2 linked regions of the Homo sapiens genome follow. The protein of the gene in region 1 purifies or fractionates together with the protein of each later gene. This does not show direct contact. Each region holds a gene or a part of one and is shown in the gene's direction. Other genes may lie near its edges.

Region 1 (4,210 bases):
CAGGAGGTTGTGGTGGGAGCATCACCTGAGCCCCCGAAGTTGAGGCTGCAGTGAGCCCTGATTGCAGCACGGCACTCCAGCCTCAGCGACAGGAGTGAGACCCTGCCTCAAAAGAAAAAAGAAAAGCAAGTTATTTCTTCCTGGCAAAGTGTGTTGAGGCACTTTTGGGAACCTGTCGTATTTGGCAGAGTCCTAATATGAGGTCTAGAGCTCATTATGCCAGGATTTGGAGCCAGAACTCCTGGCTTAGTATGATTATGGGTTCAATTTTTGAGACACCAATAGCTCAACCTACCTGCCTGATTTCTGTCTACAGTGTTTTCAAACCGCCCTCTTATTTGCCACTGCTTGGGCTTTACACTGCTGATTAGAGCCATGCTCTCGATACCGTCTCTGTATTTGTTCACATGGCTCTTTCCTGAGAGCCCACATGGGCCAGATAGATCCTGCCCTGGCCAGTGAGGGGGACACACCCCAGGCAGGTGGCCATGTCTCTCTTCTGACCCTCCCTTCCCTTGCACACGTGGCTGCCTTCCCGTGCATCCTTTGTTGATTTCTTCCCGCGGCTCCTTCTTTTGGGGAGTTTGCTAGGGCTCTGTTCTCCACCCTCACTCTTCTAGAGCTCGGCCGGGACCACCTCAGCCTGTATCTTTGGTCCATGTGATCGCCTGGACCTCCTGTCCGCACCTGTTTGTGTCCAGCTGTGAGTCTGACACCGCCGCCTGAGACACCGGTTTAGGAAGGAAGATGAATTCAGTTATGATCCGGCTGCAAAGAACTTCTCCCAGATCCTCACCTCAGCCATCAGGGCCGCCTGCCCTCCCCTATAACCCTGGGTGGTCCTCCGTCTGGCGCATTCCCCCGTATCCTGCAGGGGTCTGCCTGGCGTTACTTTCTCCGAGACCTTCCTGACCTTCTTCTTGCCCCTCTCCCCCCATATTAGGTGCAAGGATGTCCTGGTACGTCTGACCCACGAACGCAAATCCCTTCTCTGGTTTGCCTTCCATCTCCTCACCCTGAGGTGCTCAAGAAACGTATGTAGGGTCCCGGTCCGCTCAAAGCGCACAAACCTCCGAGGCAGCAGCCTCTAAATAGAGAGGCCAGGGAGTGACCGGAGGGCATTTTCTTGTACACACAGGGGTTGCCACGGAACTCCCGTGAAACAGACTCCCGGGCCAGCCGCGGCGCTCAAGCTTCCCCTGAGGTCCTAGAAAGGCTCACCCTGGGCTCGCTCGGGGCGGCGGCTCCCGGCAGGCCTAGCGCGGCGGGGCGGGGCCGGCGGCACGAGGACCAGGCAGCGCGGGCAGCACGCGCCCGGGCCGGAGCCCGCCCACAAGGGCGCGCGGCGCGTTCTGATTGGAAGGCCTCGAGCGGGGGCGGGGCTTCCAGGGTGCGCTTCCGCCGTCGCCTGTTCCCGCCGCGGAGACCCGGCAGTTGGGGGATGCCGACGCCTGGGCCTTGAGGATGCTGCGGAAGCTCACCATCGAGCAGATCAACGACTGGTTCACCATCGGCAAGACGGTGACCAATGTGGAGCTGCTGGGCGCGCCGCCCGCCTTCCCGGCAGGGGCGGCCAGGGAGGAGGTGCAGCGCCAGGACGTGGCCCCCGGCGCTGGTCCCGCGGCCCAGGCTCCGGCTCTGGCCCAAGCTCCGGCCCGGCCGGCCGCTGCGTTCGAAAGGTAGGACGCGGGCGGGGCGGAGGCGGCTGGAGGGCGGCCGGGCGAGGCCTGGCGACGAGGGCACGGGCCATCCAGATCCTTCTCGCGAGCCCGTGCCCTCTCGCGGGGCTCCAGGGACCCCTGACCGTCCAGGGCGAGTGGTCACTACACAACCCGACGCGCGGCCCAGAGCGGTGCCTGTAAGGAAGCTGAGCTAGAGGTTTTTTTTTTTTTTTTTTTTTCAGTTCTTAATGTTTAACAGACTAGTTTTTGAGGCACTCAGGTTTTCAGGATAACGGAGCGGAGGGCAGAGGTCCCATAGGCCCCTTCCCTCCCAGAGTTTCCCCTGTGAGCATCTGCGTAAGGTGTGGGTATTTGTGACAGTCGGCGAACCTGCATCGCTGCGTCTTCGTCACCCGGAGGCCATCGTTACAGGAGGGTTCACGCCTCGTACTGGACGTTCTGTGGGTTTGGACAAACGCCTAACGTCACGCATTACAGAGTTCACTGACCTACAGATCTTCTCGGCCCCACTGTTCCTGCCTCCCTTTCCCTACACCACGTGGAAACCACTGATTTTTTTACTGTCTCCATAATTTTGCTTTTCCATACTGTCATCTAGTTGGAATCACACAGTATGTGTAGCCTTTTTGATGGGTTTCTGTCACTTAGTATTAGTATGCATTTGGGGGTTCCTCCATGCCTTTCCATGGTTTGATAGCTTCTTTCCTTTTAGCACTGATTAATATTCCACTGTCTGGATGTACCACAGTTTATCTCCATTCACCTACTGAAGGAGAGCTTGGTTGCTTCCAAGTTCTCCCCCCACCCCCCGAGATGGAGTCTCACTTTGTTACCCAGGCTGGAGTGGAGTGGCGCCATCTCGCCTCACTGCAATCTCCCCCTCCTAGGTTCAAGCGATTCTCCTGCCTCAGCCTCCCGAGTAGCTGAGGCTACAGGCATATGCCACCACGCCTGGCTAATTTTTGTATTTTTAATAGAGACAGGGTTTCACCATGTTGGCCAGGCTAGTCTAGAACTCCTGACCTCAGGTGATCTGCCCACCTCAGCCTCCCAAAGTGCTGGGATTACAGGCGTGAGCCACTGCGCCCGGCCTGCTTCCAAGTTTTGGCAAGGTTTTTGTGTGGACATAAGTTTTCAACTCATTGGGTAAATACCAAGGAGTGCAAATGCTGAATCTTTGTTAAGTTTCACAGACTCCCTCCTCATCTCACTATTCTTTAAGTAGCTACCATCAGTTACTCTGTTCACTTGATTTGGGTGGAAATAAAAAGCAAGAGTATATCCTCTGTTTTTAGAGGAAAGACGTAGATTTGGTGAGTAGAAACACCTGCTCCCTCTTCTCGCTCTTTAAAAAGGCCCTGGGAGAAGTACTTCCAGCTTGGAGTATCTCCGTCACTCTTGCTCAGTCCCCAAGTCCAGCACGCTTTACAGTTGAGAAGGTGGTTTTGTTTTTCTTTTTCTTGGTTTTTTTTTTTTGAGACATAGTTTCGCTCTTGTTGCCCAGGCTGGAGTGCAGTGGCGCAATGTTGGCTCACCACAAACCTCCGCCTCCTGGGTTCAAGCGATTCTCCTGCCTTGGCCTCCCGAGTAGCTGGGATTACTGGCGTGTGCCACCACGCCCAGCTTATTTTGTATTTTTAGTAGAGACAGCATTTCACCTTGTTGGCCAGGTCGGTCTGACCTTGTGGTCCACCCATGTCGGCCTCCCAAAGTGCTGGGATTCCAGGTGTGAGTCACCGTGCCTGGCTTTATTTTTCTTTTTTAAAGTTACTCTTGTTTGTTAGTCTTGTCTGATTTGATGGATAGGCCCAGACTCTGGGTCAAGCTTTCGTGGGTTGCTTCAAGCCTTTGTAGAGTTCTTTCAAGTACACCTTTGGGATCTTTGGTAAATTTGGTTCTTAGAGGCATAGGGGGGACCGAGAGACCCCTTGTGCAACTTTGGAGTTGCTGTTTGTATGTTTGCACACTTTACTTCCTTGAGCTACTCTGGTAAATGATCCTGTGGGCCGCCTCCCCTACTTAATGGTCCATCACTTACTCCTTAGTTTTAACGGTGTGAACAGCATTGCTATTAAATAACCCATTGTAATATTGGAAGTAAATTATTATTGACCTTGTCAGAAAGTATAGATTTAAGTGCCATTTTAAGCACTAAGGACAAGTTTTTAAGATTTCTAGTCCTTCATGGACTGAGACTTTTATAAAATCAATAAAAATGAATTTTCAGAGCAATGAAATGAAAAAAGACAACATACTAATCGCAGTTAAAAAATTATTAGATTCAATCTGGGTGTGGTGGCTCCCACCTGTAATCCCAGCACTTTGGGAGTCCAAGGTGGGCAGATCATTTGAGGTCAGGAGTTCCAAGACCAGCCTGGCCAACATGGTGAAACCCTGTCTCTACCAAAAAAAAAAACAAAAATTTGCCCAGCATGGTGGTTTGTGCCTGCCGCCCCAGCTACTCAGGAGGCTGAGGTGGGAGAATTGCTTGAGTCCCTGAGGCAGAGGTTGCAGTAAGCTGAGATTGT
Region 2 (3,500 bases), on another chromosome or scaffold:
TCCTGCTCCTAAGTGCAGCAGGTGCTGGGTAAGGTGAGGGCAAACGAGTGCTGGACTTGGGATCAAGACACAGGTTCAAGTCCTGGCTGCCATTCTGTTATTCAGCTAACATTGATGAAGCATGCACTCTGTGTCCATGTACTTTTAGGTACTGGAGATTTAATTGTGAAAAAGCAGGCTTGGCACAGTGGCTCACGCCTGTAATCCCAGCACTTCGGGAGGCTGAGGCAGGTGGATCACAAGGTCTCCACCTCATGGTCTCCTGAGTGTCTCAGGAGTTCGAGACCAGCCAGGCCAACATAGTGAAACTCCGTCTCTACTAAAAATACAAAAAACATTAGCCAGGCATGGTGGCAGGCGCCTGTAGCCCCAGCTACCTGGGAGGCTGAAGCAGGAGAATCGCTTGAACCTGGGAGGCAGAGGTTGCAGTGAGCCGAGATCTCGCCACTGCACTCCAGCCTGGATGACAGAATGAGACTGTGTTTCAAAAGAAAAAGTAGTCAGTTTACAAATGTTATTGGCGGGGCGTGGGATGGAATGAGGTGGTCAGGTAACATTTCATTAAAAAAGTGACATTTGAGCCAAGATCAGGAGAGAGTGAGGAGCTGACAGTGGCATATCTGGAGGAGGGGCAGGACTTTTGATTTCACTCTGAGGGAGGTATTTGGGAGGCCAGGGGAAGGCTGAGCAGAGATGTGACATGGTCTCACCTGTGTACTAAGAGGGTCACTCTGGCTACTGTGGTAGAGAAGCCTCCATGGGGAAGGACAGGAGGAGGGAGAGCAGTGAGGGGCGAGTGATGATGGTGGCTCGGACCAGTGAGAAATGCTCAGATTCCGGATGCATTTTGAAGATGGAGCCACCAGGATTTCTGGGTGGGAAATTATGGGGTATGACCGACAAGAAGAGTCAAGGCTGACTGGGTTTGGGGCCTCAGCGACTGAAAAGACAGAATTAATGAAAGTGGCAAGATCTCGGGGGGAAGCATGTGTTTTAGGGAGGACCAGAAAGAAGCTTGGTTGCAGGTGCCAGTTAGATACCCCATTTGAAGGTGATGCATGAATCTGGGGTTCAGGGTTCAGGGCTGAGCAGTCCTCCTGCTCTGGGCTGTGGCTTCATCAGCTCCCAGCTTGGTTGGGAGGGGCCTGTGGCTTCTGAAGAGGATGCTGCTGGGGAATAGTACAACTCAAAGGGGTAGGATTCTGTGCCCTCACCCCTAGGCCGAAGGAAAGTTTGCCAGTCACAAAACTAGCTGAGCCCCTGGGCTCCCTGCAGCACACACACTCTGTGCACGCTCCACTGTGCCCCAGAAAACCCGTGGGTTCTTTGTTCCTAGACTTGAGTGCCCCATCCCCAGTCCTGGGAGCAGAGGCCGGGCCTGGGTGTGGAAGGGGGGGCTCGGCGGTGCCCCCTGGTGGCATGCTTGGGCGTGGGACTGATATCCCCTCGCTCCTTCCCCCCAGCGCGACTGTCAAAACTACATCAAGATCCTCCTGCCGCTCAGCGGCAGTCACCTGTTCACCTGTGGCACAGCAGCCTTCAGCCCCATGTGTACCTACATCGTGAGTGACCTGTCCTCAGCCCTGAGGCTGACCTGGGAACTGCCCCTCTTTCTGCCCCAGGGATCCTGTTCTGTAGCATAGACCCCTGAGGAAAGGCAGGGCCCAGAGGGAGGTTTCTAGGTACCACTGGCCTCCAAGAGCCCTGAGGTCCCACACCCTGGCACAAAGCGCAGCCCTGACAGCCATGTCTCCCTGTGCGGGGAGGCGGGGGCACATGCGGTCACTTACCCATGAAGATCCTGTGCCACCCAGGCCTTGCTGCCCTCTTCTGCTTCTTCCAGCATCTCTCCCTCTCCTTTGCTTGATTCTCTTGTCTTATCTTGTACACCCCCTCCTCAGCACACACCCCTAGCAGAGGGTGGCATTTGATGCTGTGGGTTGGAGCCCAGCTTTGGGGTCAGACACACCTGGGTTTGAATCACATTGCTGCCCCTTCCAGGCTCACATCATTTTATTTCTTTTTTCTTTTTCTTTTCTTTTTTTTTTTTTTTTTTGAGATGGAGTCTCGCTCTGTCGCCCAGGCTGGAGTGCAGTGGCACGATCTCGGCTCACTGCAAGCTCTGCCTCCTGGGTTCACGCCATTCTCCTGCCTCAGCCTCCCGAGTAGCTGGGACTACAGGTGCCCGCCACCACGCCTGGCTAATTTTTTCTATTTTTCGGTAGAGAGGGGGGTTTCACCGTGTTAGCCAGGATGGTCTTGATCTCCTGACCTCGTGATCCACCCGCCTCGGCCTCCCAGAGTGCTGGGATTACAGGTGTGAGCCACCGCGCCCGGCCAGGCTCACATCATTTTCTAAGCCTCACCTCCTCCGCCAGGTGGGTCTGATAATGTGTCCCGCGTCGGGTCACTGTGAGGCAGTGTGGCACTGTGTCTGGGTGAGGCCTCTCCTGAGGCCGACTGTCCAGGTTCAAACCCTTCGGCACCGTGTCCTGGCTGAGGAGGACGGCGTCCCTGACACCTGACCCCTTCTGTCCCACACACCTCACCTGCCTGCAGAGTTGCCTTCTCCTGCACGCCTCTCTCTTTCTCACCAAGCCTGCTCCTCATTCCCTGGAGTGCCCCTGAGCCCATGTGTCCACCCTCCTGCAGAACATGGAGAACTTCACCCTGGCAAGGGACGAGAAGGGGAATGTCCTCCTGGAAGATGGCAAGGGCCGTTGTCCCTTCGACCCGAATTTCAAGTCCACTGCCCTGGTGGTTGGTGAGTGTTGAGGGCAGGATGGCTTCATTGAGGTTCCATGTAGGGGCACACAGGGCTAGAGGGCTAGCTTTGGACAGGCTGAGTCCATGCCATGCTTATTTCCAAGGGGACAGAATGGCCAGGGGCTTGCCTTGGGTTTGGTTTTTCCAAGTTCCAGCTTCCTTCTCTGCCCACCACAGGCAAAACGGGCAGTGCTGGGGTCACTCTGGGCCCTGAGCAGGGAGAAGGGGCCGTGCTGAGGAGCCCATTCCCATGGGAATGTTTTCTTGGCAGATGGCGAGCTCTACACTGGAACAGTCAGCAGCTTCCAAGGGAATGACCCGGCCATCTCGCGGAGCCAAAGCCTTCGCCCCACCAAGACCGAGAGCTCCCTCAACTGGCTGCAAGGTGAAGTCCTCTTGCCACCACCCAGAGGGCAGGGATCCTGTTCACCCAGCCCTAGAAGGGGGCACTTTCCCCCAGCTTGGCCTGTCTCCAGGGTTCCTGGGCTGACTCTGAGCTCCTGACCTGGTCCCTACAGACCCAGCTTTTGTGGCCTCAGCCTACATTCCTGAGAGCCTGGGCAGCTTGCAAGGCGATGATGACAAGATCTACTTTTTCTTCAGCGAGACTGGCCAGGAATTTGAGTTCTTTGAGAACACCATTGTGTCCCGCATTGCCCGCATCTGCAAGGTGAGGGGAACGGGCTGACAGGGTGGCCACCCCAGGGACCTCAAAGCCTCCACAGCTGCAAGAT

The links. Proteins that work in one complex are often made in the same cells at the same time.
Region 2: the proteins of TDRD9 (region 1) and SEMA4B purify together in Homo sapiens (affinity purification with mass spectrometry; one large-scale study listed by BioGRID and IntAct). This does not show direct contact.

What each region holds. Positions count from the first base shown.
Region 1 is NC_000014.9:103,927,046-103,931,255, forward strand, and holds the start of TDRD9 (ATP-dependent RNA helicase TDRD9), read left to right. Parts: upstream 1-1,410; 5' UTR 1,411-1,464; coding exon 1,465-1,679; intron 1,680-4,210. UniProt on the Homo sapiens protein: ATP-binding RNA helicase required during spermatogenesis. Required to repress transposable elements and prevent their mobilization, which is essential for the germline integrity.
Region 2 is NC_000015.10:90,218,330-90,221,829, forward strand, and holds part of SEMA4B (semaphorin-4B isoform 1 precursor), read left to right. Parts: intron 1-1,463; coding exon 1,464-1,562; intron 1,563-2,652; coding exon 2,653-2,764; intron 2,765-3,037; coding exon 3,038-3,151; intron 3,152-3,284; coding exon 3,285-3,436; intron 3,437-3,500. UniProt on the Homo sapiens protein: Inhibits axonal extension by providing local signals to specify territories inaccessible for growing axons.